3 separate regions of the Homo sapiens genome follow, and regions 1 and 2 are each linked to region 3. Evidence: fine-mapped expression QTL. A gene starts in region 3. Each other region holds a variant in brackets. All regions are shown on one strand. Distances are from middle to middle. Region 1 has its middle 16 kb from the start of LINC02323. Region 2 overlaps LOC105370680 (a long non-coding RNA gene). Region 3 holds the start of RCOR1 (REST corepressor 1).

Region 1 (4,122 bases), 32 kb after region 3:
CATGGAAACCCTGGACTTCCGGTGATGATGTGGCCCTGTAGGTTCCTCAGTTGTAACAAATGTGCGGCTCCAGCGGGGGATGTTGATTGTGAGGGAGGCTGTGCATGTGTGGGGGCAGAGGTACATGGGAACTCTCTGTACCTTCTGCTTAATTTGGCCGTGAACCTCAGGCAGCTCTGAAAAAAAAAGCTTTCTTTTTTTTTTGAGACGGAGTCTCACTCTGTCCCCAGGCTGGTGCAATCTGGGCTCACTACAAACTCCGCCTCCCGGGTTCACACTATTCTCCCGCCTCAGCCTCCCAAATAGCTGGGACTACAGGCACCCGCCACCACGCCTGGATAATTTTTTGTATTTTGGTAGAGACGGGGTTTCACCATGTTAGCCAGGATGGTCTTGATCTCCTGACCTTGTGATCCACCCGCCTCGGCCTACCAAAGTGCTGGGATTACAGGCGTGAACCACCGCGCCCAGCCAGCTTTCTTTTTCTTTGAGACGGAGTCTCGCTCTGTCTCTAGGCTGGAGTGCAGTGGTGGGCTCTTGGCTCACTGCAACCTCCAACTCCCTGGTTCAAGCAATTCTCCTTCCTCAGCCTCCTGAGTAGCTGGGATTACAGGCATGCACCACCACGCCCGGATAATTTTTGTACTTTTAGTAGAGACGGGGTTTCATCATGTTGGCCAGGATGTTCTGGATCTCCTGACCTCGTGATCGGCCCGCCTCGGCCTCCCAAAGTGCTGGGATTACAGGCACAAACAACTGCACCCAGCCAATAAAAGCTATTTTTAAAAAGTTTTGCTAAGTGAAAGAAGTCAGTCACAAAAGGCGACGTCATATGGTTTCATTTATATGAAATGTCCAGAACACGCAAACCCATAGAGATGGAAAGTGTGTGAGTGGTTGCCAGGGGCTGGGCAGAGCAGGTAAATGGAGAGTGGTTACTAATGGGTACATGGTGTGTTTGGAGGGTGATTAAAATGTTCTTTTTTTTTTTTTTTTTTTTCTGAGACAGAGTCTCACTCTGTCGCCCAGGCTGGAGTGCCGTGGTGCAATCTCGGCTCACTGCAACCTCTGCCTCCTGGGTTCAAGCGATTCTCCTGCCTCAGCCTCCAGAGTAGCTGGGATTACAGGCGCCCTCCACCATGCCCAGCTAATTTTTGTATTTTTAGTAGAGGGGGGTTTCACCATGTTGCCCAGGCTGGTCTCAAACTCCTGACTTCAGGTGATCTGCCCGCCTTGGCCTCCCAAAGTGCTAGGATTACAGGCGTGAGCCACCGCGCCCGGCCTCGAAAATGTTCTAAAATTGATTGTGGTGATGGTTGCACAACTCTGCGAATATACCATCCACCACAGAGAGCTGCACGCTTTAAAATGAATTGTGTGATATGTGAATTAGATCTCAATAAAGCTGTTTTATCTCAAAAAATCTACAGGTTGGCCGGGTGCGGTGGCTCATGCCTGTAATCCCAACACTTTGGGAGGCCGAGGCGGGTGGATCACTTGAGGTCAGGAGTTCGAGACCAGCCTGGCCAATATGATGAAACCCCATCTCTACTAAAAGTACAAAAATTAGCCAGGTTTGGTGGTGCACGCCTGTAATCCCAGCTACTTGGGAGGCTGAGGCAAGAGAATAACTTGAACCTGGGGAGTGGGGGTTGCAGTGAGCTGAGATAGCACCACTGTGCTCCAGCCTTAGCAATTGAGCGATACTCTGCCTCAACAAGAACAAAAAAAAGTCTGTAGGAAATTATAAAAAAAGAGACTGGAGTTGTTTGTTACCACCACATATCCTAGCCCATCCTGCCTCACCTCACTCAGGGAAGAGGAAGAGACTTGCCCAGACCACGTGACTAGTGAGCAGCAAGGCTGGGTGTCCACCCCGGCTGCAGTGCCCCTGTCGTGGAGTGGGGACACTGGCCCTGGTGGGCCTGGGTCTGGGGTGCCTCCTTGGCTGGGGTTCTGGCGTCTGAGTGAGCTCCTGCATGAGCCGCTGGGGCATCTCCTCTACTGCACCTGGCCCCCTGCCTCCCAGAGGGCAGCTGTGGCTTCCTGGAGACATTGCTCAGCAGCTGGTGTGCAGGGCACAGCTGAATCCCCAAATAAAACCGCAGCCACCCCCA[A/G]TGAGTTCCTAACTCGTCCAAAGACATAGAGCCAGCTTCCCCTTGGGGTCCGGCCTGGGGCAAGGCCCTTCTGGAGGTCATCTCAGCCAATCTCCTAGGTGACTCCAGTCGGAGTACAGGCCTCAGTCAGCCACGCATCCTGTGCCTGCTTGCTGCAGTCCTGGGCTGGGTGCAGTCCTGGGTGCTGGGACCCACAGCGAGGGCTGCAGCTCACACCGGTGTCTCACTCTCCACCAGATGCTCCGGCCCAGCCCCCAAGCTATCTGACTGCACCCAACCTAGCTCCAAAACTTCAGTGAAAGACTGAAGCTTCTTAGTCAGGCATTTAGGGCCTTGCGGGCTGGTTTTCGCCAGCCTCTCCTATCTCTTCTCCCACCACCCATGTGCCTTGGACTCTGGAGAAGGGAGAGTGACCCCAGCCTGTTCCTGGAACAGGCCCTGCCCCATCCCATCCTCTTGTTGGCTCACTGTGTTCCCTCCTCTGGAACACCTTTCCCCCGCATGGCTAGTTTGTCCCAGTCTCCAAATCCCTGAGGCTGGACAATGGGGAGCCAGGGTTGGGGAAGCTGAGAGACCCCTGGCTCTGTCTCCACTGGGGGAGGGTGTGTGGCAGTCGAGGTGGTGACCAAGGTGCAGTGCTAGTCAGAGCGAACCCAGCTGAGCACCAGCCGCGAGCCAGGGGATTGCCAAGGACTTCCCACGGCTGAAGCTATCCACTGCCACGGAGCCGACATCTCGTGGCAAGCAGCTTGCTCAGGGTCACTGAGTGAGAAGGCGGCACGGCAGGGACTGCGACCAGGACCCCAGAGCTGTCCTGTGAATCTTGGTGCCGCTTTCCCTCCAACTGAGGCAGCCACCCTGGCTTCTGCCCCATTACTTACCAGCACAGGGCCTCTGTTTCCCCATGCACAATGGGACTGAAGAACCTAAAGTTTTTTCCTACTTAGACACTCCCAAGTTACATTATCCCACAAATACCCCAGGCCCGCTCACTCGGAGCCAGCCCCAGCCTTCGTGTAGGAATTTATTTTATTTTATTTTTGAGACGGAGTCTCACTCTGTCTCTCAGGCTGAAGTGCAGTGGCTCAATCTTGGCTCACTGCAACCTCCACCTCCCGGGTTCAAGCGATTCTCCTGCCTCAGCCTCCTGAGTAGCTGGATTACAGGCACATGACACCATGCTCAGCTAACTTTTTGTGTTTTTAGTAGAGAGGGGGTTTCACCATGTTGGCCAGGATGGTCTCGATCTCTTGACCTCGTGATCTGCTCGTCTCAGCCTCCCAAAGTGCTGGGATTACAGGCGTGAGCCACTGCGCCTGGCCTCGTGTAGGAATTTAAAGCTGAAGGAGGCGACATGTGAACCTAGAGGTGAAGAACAATTTGCCAGGCATGTGAGGGTGGGAAGGGTGTTCCAAGCACTAGGAACAGGATATGCCTAGGCAGGGGAGAGACCAGTGTCAGCACAGTCCCCAGCCCTCAGGACCCTGCAGTGGGGAGAGACAAGCTCACTCCCTGTCCTCCTGGGCCACTTAAGAAGCAGGCAGGGCTGGGTACGGTGGCTCACGCCTGTAATCCCAGCACTTTGGGAGGCCGAGGCGGGCGGATCACGAGGTCAGGAGATCGAGACTATCCTGGCTAACATGCTGAAACCCCGTCTCTACTAAAAATACAAAAAAAAAAAAACTAGCCCAGCGTGGTGGCGGGCGCCTGTAGTCCCAGCTACTCAGGAGGCTGAGGCAGGAGAATGGCGTGAACCCAGGAGGCGGAGCTTGCAGTGAGCCGAGATCGCGCCACTGCACTCCAGACTGGGTGACAGAGCGAGACTCCATCTCAAAAAAAAAAAAAAAAAAAAAGAAGCAGGCAGTGGGTGGGGAGCCAGGGTGAGGCTGGCAGGGCAGCCTTCCTCATGACCTGCCACTGAGGTCTTGAGCCCCTGTGACCCAGAGAGTTGGGTTAGCCTTGGCCCAGAGGCCCAGAGAGGGCAAGACACCCTGGAGCCACTCAA
Region 2 (4,122 bases), 61 kb after region 3:
CTCCAGCCTGGGAAACAGAGGGAGACTCCATCTTAGAAACAAACAAACAAAAGGGCAACTAGCTGCCTTCGGACCTGCTCTGCCTTAGCCATTCTTTTTTTTTTTGAGATGGAGTCTTGCTCTGTTGCCCAGTCTGGAGTGCAGTGGCACAGTCTGGGCTCACTGCAACCTCTGTCTCTTGGGTTCAAGAGATTCTCCTGCCTCAGCCTCCCGAGTAGCTGGGATTACAGGTGCCTGCCACCATGCCCGGCTAATTTTTTGTATTTTTAGCAGAGGCATGATTTCTCCATGTTGGCCAGGCTCGTCTTGAACTCCTGACCTTGTGATCTGCCTGCCTCAGCCTCCCAAATTGTTGGGATTATAGGCATGAGCCACCGCGCCCAGCCCAGAACAGGCAACATTTTTTTTTTTTTTTTTTTGAGACGGAGTCTCACTCTGTCGCCAGGGCTGGAGTGCAGTGGCGCGATCTTGGCTCACTGCAACCTCCGCCTCCTGGGTTCAAGCGATTCTCCTGCCTCAGCCTCCCAAGTTGCTGGGATTACATGTGCCTGTCATTATGCCCAGGTAATTTTTTTGTATTTTTAGTAGAGACGGGGTTTCACCGTGTTGGCCAGGCTGCTCTCGAACTCCTGACCTGGAGATTCACTCGCCTCGGCCTCCTAAAGTGCTGGGATTACAGGCGTTAGCCACCGTGCCTGGCCAGGCAACTTTTAAACCCAAGCAGCTTCTGTTCTTGTCTTTGACCACCCTGGGCTCCCTGCGCCAGAGTCTCAAAATGTCAAGGCAGGGAGTGTCCTTGGAGATGATCTTTCTACATCCTCATTTCAAAGACAGGCAGGAGCTCAGAGAGGTGAAGGGATTTGCCCAAGGACACACAGCTTCTCAGTGATTACATCAGCTATTGCTCACGGTCCTCCACTTCCACTCCCCACCTCCACCTCCCACAGAGATCCAAGGGATTAGAAGCTGATATTTTATCAGGGCATTTGCTGCCTGGAATTAAGACATTTCCCAGCCTCCCTTACACATAGGTGTGGCCATGTGACTAATTTTTGGCCTCAATGTAAGGAGTGTGTTTGACTTCATAAAGAGTTCTTAAAGGGAAAGGCACACTCTACTCCCTTCTCACTTCTGGGAATGCAGATAAAATGGCAGGAGTTTCAGCAACCATTTTGAACACGAAGTGATCTCAGAAATGAAAACTATTCATGTGGCCCAGTGCAGTGGCTCATGCCTGTAATCCCAGCACTTTGGGAGGCTGAGGCGGGTGGATCACCTGAGGTCAGGAGTTCAAGACCAGCCTGGCCAACATGGCAAAACCCCGTCTCTACTAAAAATACAAAAATTAGCCAGGCATGGTGGTGGGCGCCTATAATCCCAGCTACTTGGGAGGCTGAGGCAGGAGAAACCTTTGAACCTGGGAGACGGAGGTTGCAGTGAAGCCTCGGCGACAGAGTGAGACTCCGTCTTAAAAAAGAAAACTAGGCCGGGCGCGGTGGCTCACGCCTGTAATCCCAGCACTTTGGGAGGCCGAGGCGGGTGGATCATGAGGTCAGGAGATGGAGACCATCCTGGCTAACATGGTGAAATCCAGTCTCTACTAAAAATACAAAAAAATTAGCCAGGCGTAGTGGCAGGCGCCTGTAGTCCCAGCTACTCGGGAGGCTGAGGCAGGACAATGGCGTGAACCGGGGAGGCGGAGCTTGCAGTGGGCCAACATAGAGCCACTGCCCTCCAGCCTTGGCAACAGAGCGAGACTCTGTCTCAAAAAAAAAAAAGAAATGGAGGGTCCAGGCCGGGCGCGGTGGTTCACACCTGTAATCCCAACACTTTGGGAGGCTGAGGCGGGCGGATCACAAGGTCAGGCGTTCGAGACCAGCCTGGGAAACCGAGGGAGACCTCCATCTCTACAAAAAGCACGAAAATTAGCCGGGCATGGCGGTGTGGGCCTGTAGTCCCAGCTACTTGAGAGGCTGAGGTGGGAGGATCACCTGAGCCCAGGAGAGGCTGCAGTGAGTTGTGATCGTGCCACTGTTAGCGTTGGAGGGTTTCCAGGATCTTGGTGTCTTGAACAAAGAATTGGACAAAACGTATAAACAAATCAAGGAAAGAATGAAGAAACAAAAGCAGAGTTTTATTGAAAACAAAAGTACAGTCGACTGCACAGAGTGGGAGCGGCCGGAGCACGTTGGCTCAAGAGCCCGTCACAGAATTTTCTGGAGTTTAAATACTCTCTAGAGGTTTCCATTGGTTATTTGGTGTGCACCCTATGTAAATGAAGAGGCTTAAAGTGAGTTACTGAAGTGAAGTTACAAAGCTATTTACTGGGTGTACACCCTATGTAAATGAAGAGGATGAAGTTACAAAGTCACTTACTTGGTGAACGCCCTATGCAAATGAAGAGGATATTTCCTGTCGTAGCTGAAATGCCTCCTCTCTCCTCTCCATCTGATTTAGTTCTGGGAAGTCCTCAGGTTCCCTTCCTCTAGGACTTATTCTC[C/T]CGTCTCACCACTGCACTCAAGCCTGGGCCCCAGAGCCAGACTCTGTGTCTAAAAAAAAGAAAAAAAGAGGCCAGGCACAGTGGCTCACACCTGTAATCCCAGTACTTTGGGAGGCTGAGGCAGGTGGATCACCTGAGGTCAGGAGTTGGAGACCAGCCTGGCCAACATGGTGAAACCCCGTCTCTACTAAAAGTACAAAAAATCAGCCAGGCGTGGTGGCGTGAGCCTATAGTCCCAGCTACTCTGGAGGCTGAGGCAGGAAAATCACTTGAACCCAGGAGGCGGAGGTTGCAGTGAGCCAAGATTGCGCCATTGCACTCCAGCCTGGGCTACAGGGCAAAACTCCATCTCAAAAAACAACAGCAAACAAAAAGAAAAAAAATAAAACCAGGTACGGCAGAGCCACAGGATGAAAGGAATAAAGGCAGCCCAGGTTCCTGACACTGTGACACTCCTTGCCATATAAGCCCTGGGCCCCTCTAAACAGATTTTGTTTTTGTTTTTGTTTTTGAGACAGCATTTTGCTCTGTTGCCCAGGCTGGAGTGCAGTGGCACAATTCAGCTCACTGCAACCTCCACCTCCCGGGTTCAAGTGATTCTCCTGCCTCAGCCTCCCAAGTAGCTGGGATTACAGGCGCCTGCCACCACGCCCAGCTAATTTTTTTGTATTTTTAGTAGAGACGGGGTTTCACCATGTTGGCCAGGCTGGTCTCGAACTCCTGACCTCAAGCGATTCACTCCCCTTGGCCTCCCAAAGTACTGAGATTACAGGTGTGAGCCACCGCGCCCGGCCGACATCTTCACAATGAGAGAAAAATAAGCTTCCATTGAGTCTGAGCTGTCCTTTTCTGGGGTTTTCTACTGGGTCCGCTTGACTCTGAGTCTAACACTTTTCTTGCTCTTCCAGAGTTTCTTCTCTGAGGAGGTACAGTGAGGAACAGAGAGGTCTTGGTTCAGAGTAGGCCCTGGGGTTTATGATTTGACATTTTATGTAGGGTGCAGGGACCCCAAATGATTTCTATCTTCATTATTCTATTTATTTATTTTTTGGGATCAGTTTCGCTCTGTCACCCAGACTGGAGTGTAGTGGCGCCATCTTGACTCACTGCAATCTCCGCCTCCCGGGTTCAAGCGATTCTCCTGCCTCAGCCTCCTGAGTAGCTGGGACTATAGGGGCGTGCAATCACGCCCGACTAATTTTCGTATTTTTAGTAGAGATGAGGTTTCACCATGTTGGTCAGGCTGGTCTCGAACTCTTGACCTTGTGATCTGCCTGCCTTGGCCTCCCAAGGTGCTGGGATTACAGGTGTGAGCCACAGCGCCCGGCTATTTTTTAATTTTATTTTATTTTTGAGATGGAGTTTCGCTTTTCTTGCCCAGGCTAGAGTGCAGTGGCACGATCTTGGCTCACCACAGCCTCTGCCTCCCAGCTTCAAGTGATTCTCCTGCTTCAGCTTCCTGAGTAGCTGGAATTACAGGCATATGCCACCACGCCTGGCTAATTTTGTATTTTTAGTAGAGACCGGGTTTCTCCATGTTGGTCAGGCTGGTCTCGAACTCCTGACTTCAGGTGATCCGACCACCTAGGCCTCCCAAAGTGCTGGGATTACAGGCATGATCC
Region 3 (4,106 bases):
AAGAAACACAAACGCGAGTATTAGACAAATAAATTTAACAGATTTACGTCAACAAATCAAAATTTAGAAGGCCAATTTAGGAAGTCATTTATTTCCAGAGTGTCCAAGAGCTCACCTAGGACCTCTATGTATTTTCACTTCAAAGTGCAGTTTAGTACCTTAATAACAGCTTGAGAGCAATCGCCTTTTTCAAGGACTAGATCATTGCAATTTTCTGCAGTCTTGTTTCCAAGGAAAAAACATGTATGCGTTTATCTTTTCAAATAAACTAGTGGTATAACCCACATACAGAACCCCAGCTCTAAAGCCCTCCAACCATGGAGGATTGTTAACTCCAGCTTTACAAGATGCTCTTTTGAATTTTATTTCTGAAATAAATCCTACGTTCTTTCAAACATTTTCCATACCAACAACCTTTAAAGACAGTCTCATACAGACACTGGCTAGAATCTCATGCATTAAAATCTGACGAATTCCTTTGTCTGATCGGATTTTTTTTCTTGTACCACTTTAAATTTGCTTCTACACAGAATAGCAGCCAGGGAACTAAGTGTTCCATTCTAGGGTGTAGGGCTTTCTTGTAGGTGAAAAGCATTTGTTAGGCTAAAGCTTCTGATGCTTCTCAATTTCACAATCTCTTCCTCCAAAAAAAAGGAAATACACACATTTACAAATAGGTCCTAAAATCCAACTGCCACACGCGAGACTCTCTTCCCCAGGCAGGCGCCCTCTGGAAAACACACTTCTTTTATTGACTGGTTTTGGGGGGTCGTTCTTCTACTCGCCTTCTGGATGGGAGGGCAGTCAGGAGCCAGCAAGAGCCCAGAGGCTGAGAGGAGGAGCAAAGGCGTGGGGAGCAGCCTTTGGGAAGGGTTCCGAGAAAGGGGTCTCTGGGGACCTCCTAAGTCCGGGGCGCTCGCAGGACACTAACTCTCCGGCACTGCCACCCTTACCCCTGGCCGAGGCGCAGCTCACCTGGACGCAGGGACCCCCAGCGCCCCCAGGCCAGGTGTGGCCACCTCCGACGCCACCCGCAGTCCTCGGAGGCGCAAGGGGGCAGCGGCGCCGGCCCTGCTGGGGGCGACCTGGCCTCCCCCGGGTGCAGAGGCACGTTTGCAGAACACTCGTGTGCGTGTGCGCCTCCTCGTCCTCGCCCTGCTGTTCTCCCCACGGACGGCAGGGCGAACGCACAAAAAGAAAGTTGTCGGCGGGCTCCCGCCCCCTCGGGCTCGCCGGGGACCCGGGGCTCCCGCTCATCCCCGCCGCCGGCCGGCCGGGGCCGCTACTCACCGGGGTCGAAGTCGGGCACCACCGCCTGGTACTGGGGTCCGACCCTCATGCCACCGCCACCTGCGGGGGAAGCAGAATACGGCGGTCAGCGCGGCGCGGGGCGCGGGGCCCGGGGCCGCGGGGGCGGCTGCCACCTACCGTGCTCCTCGTCGCTGGACGAGCCCGAGCTGCCTTCCTCCCAGGAGTTGCTGCTGCTGTTGCCATTGGGCGCCGCCGCCGCCAAACTTTTATTCTGGCCATTATTGGGGGCGGCGGCGGCTGAGGCGGCGGCGGCCGAGGCTGAGGAGGCGGCGGCGCCCGAGGCGGCAGTGGCGGCTGGCGAGGCGCAGGCGGCCGAGGCGGCGGCGGAGGCGGCGGCGGCGGAGGCGGAGGCGGCCGCGTTGTTCCTCCCTCTCCGCTTCCCTGAGACCTCGGGGCCCTTCTCCACCATGGCCGGCATCGGCGGGGGCCGGGGCCGTGCGAAAGTGGCGGGGACCCGCGGCTCCTGAGGAGGGGGCGCCGAGACGGGGGAGGGGGCGCGGGGCCGGCGCGGGGCCGGGCGGGCGCGGCGGGAGCCCACGGGCGCGAGTCCGAGTCGGGGGAGGCCCAAACGGGCAGAGCGCGGAGCCGCTTCAAGCCCCCAGCGACGAGCCGAGCGCAACTTTCGCTCTCATCGCCGCCCTCACTTCACTGGCACCAACTACTCCGGGAGCAGCGAGCGGAGAGGGGAGGAGGCAGGGGCGGGGCCTGCAGGGGCGCCGGGGGAGGGGGGCGCGCAGCCCAACTGACGCGAGATGGCTCCGCCCCCCCTCGCGCTCCCATTGGCTCTGGTGGGATTTGGACAGCCAGCGGCAGCGGGGTTGGCTCCGCGCGCCCGTCCGTCCGGGGCGGCGGGGCGGGGGAGCGGGGAGGGGCGGCTCCGGGCTTCCGTTGGCGAGGTTCGGTTGACGCGTATCGCCCGCCGTACGTGGTTTGAGGTTTGCCATCTCCCTACGCCCCATGATCCATCTCTCCAGGCAGCGGCGAGGAGTTCGCGGCCCTCCCCGCCCCCTACCCTTGGCCGCGGCCCCTGCCCTTGCTGCCCGCGCACGCCTCCCGCAGCCTCTGGCCCCCCATCTGAAGGACCCCGCTGAGAGTCCCGTCGACTTCTCAAAGTAAAATGTGTCTGGCGCTGGGAAGCCGCGGAGCGCCCGGCCGGGACTACTTTCCGCTGCGCGGAGGAGTACGGGCGCGCTAAGACTCCATACAAAGAGGAAACTAATTGGGGGAAACTCGCTGCGCCCCCGCCTTTCCCAGGGGACGCGGGGCTGGCGGGGGCGGGGGCCGCGGCGCGGGGGACGGGCTTCCCAGGCGGCCGCCTCCCCTGGCGCGAGCTGCGTGGGGACTCGGGTCTGCGGTGCTGCCCGCTAATTGGGTGGGGGAGGCCGGGGCCCCCGGGGTGGCTTGGGTGCGGGGTGCGCCGCGGCTTCAGAGGCCCAAGGGAGGGTCCCCGTGGGTCCCCGGGGCACAGAGTCCCGGCGTGGGGACGCCCAAGCCGCCTGGGTGGCCGCTGAAAGATGAATGAAGGGGCCCAGTCGTCCTGGGGCGGGGGTCCAGGAAGGGTAAAGAGGAAGAAGCTATTTTCATCCCAAGCTCTCGGCACGGGAGGAGGGTCAACTTCTTTCGGGGCGAGGGCAGCCACTTTTCCGGACCTGCCGCCCGCCCCGCCTCCCTACTCCCCCCGGCACCCCCACGAGGGAGAACACGGGGTGCGGGCGGGTGGGGTAGGCTGAGGCTAGCCTGAGAGCCGCTGCCTTGGAGAGGGACCACCGGGCAGCCGTACAGCTGTTAGGAGGCTGAGGAGTGTAACTGCCTTGGAGGTCCCGGTGCCCTACCCCCAGCCAACCCTGAAACTACGCGCCCTTCGTAATTAGACCAGTGGAGGTCTATACGGAAAATCTTTTTAAAGCAGGGAAGGCTATTTTTCTTTTAAGTTACTTCAAACCTGAGCTTAATTTGGGGACTAGCTCTGGATATAAATAGCTACAGGGAGAATTTGGGAGTTTTATGGTTTTAAAGCCTGAGTAAATAAGCAGGGTTTTGTCTTGAACATTTTCTGCAGCATGAACCATTATTAACTTTATTGAAGAGACCACGTTCACTTCTGCCTAAATGGCCTTTAAGAAACAGGGCTGGGAGCCCTCCTGGTATAGAAGCCCTTCCCCCACCAAGTTCAGGTGGGGGACTTAGACTTTTAGACTCTCCTCAAAAGTACGTCCCTCTCCTTGGAGTGCCCTGGATGCTGCAGGTGTGTGCCCCAATACACCCTGTCAGCTGGCCTGGGCAGGGTACAGAACCGGGGTGGCATTCCCGGGGCTGGGCCACCGGCTAAGGCCTCTGACTCATCCGGAGGTGAGCCCTGTGTGAGGAATGAGGTCCAGAACACGCTGCCCCGCTCGCTTGGTGTCTACAAAGTTCTGCCACGAGACTAGAAGGATCAACCTACAAGGGCACAAAGGTGATACTGGGTCATTAAGGCAATAGGGATAGCAGAGCACACAAGGCCGCCCTCTCCACCCACCAGCCCCCAAGGCTGAGGCCAGGCTGGGCTACCAGTAGGGGCGCAGCAGTGGACTTGACAAGCATTCTTTTTTTTTTTTTTCCAACGAATATTAACACTTAATATGTGCCGGGCCCTGTTCTATTTTGTCTGACCCTAATGCTACACCGATACTGTATTGGCCTGAAGCTCTCAGATTTACCAACCGTAAAATACAGGAAACAGTACCTACCTCCTGGCCTGATGGACTGTAATAGAGTCCATCCTTCCAGCATAGGGAACCCCAACGTTAAGGACA

What was found. PIP is the estimated chance that this variant, and not a neighbour inherited with it, causes the effect.
Region 1: its variant is fine-mapped to the expression of RCOR1 in whole blood (TOPMed, PIP above 0.99).
Region 2: its variant is fine-mapped to the expression of RCOR1 in whole blood (TOPMed, PIP above 0.99). The same link has a PIP of 0.9 or more in monocytes.

The regions. Positions count from the first base shown.
Region 1 is chr14:102,558,783-102,562,904 of GRCh38, reverse strand. No RefSeq gene overlaps it. Among named protein-coding and RNA genes, the nearest start is that of LINC02323, 16 kb to the right of the region's middle. RefSeq lists an enhancer at 2,068-2,337. The variant A/G (reference allele first, on the strand shown) is at 2,118.
Region 2 is chr14:102,529,283-102,533,404 of GRCh38, reverse strand. It overlaps LOC105370680 (a long non-coding RNA gene), which reads right to left. Exons shown (of 4, transcript XR_944239.2): 3 at 2,377-2,549; 4 at 2,114-2,267. Among named protein-coding and RNA genes, the nearest start is that of MIR4309, 8.3 kb to the left of the region's middle. The variant C/T (reference allele first, on the strand shown) is at 2,501.
Region 3 is chr14:102,590,510-102,594,615 of GRCh38, reverse strand. RCOR1 (REST corepressor 1) reads right to left here and starts at 1,967. Exons shown (of 12, transcript NM_015156.4): 1 at 1,429-1,967; 2 at 1,291-1,350. The coding sequence starts at 1,729. RefSeq lists silencers at 991-1,600, 1,661-2,970 and enhancers at 2,549-3,364, 3,646-3,695.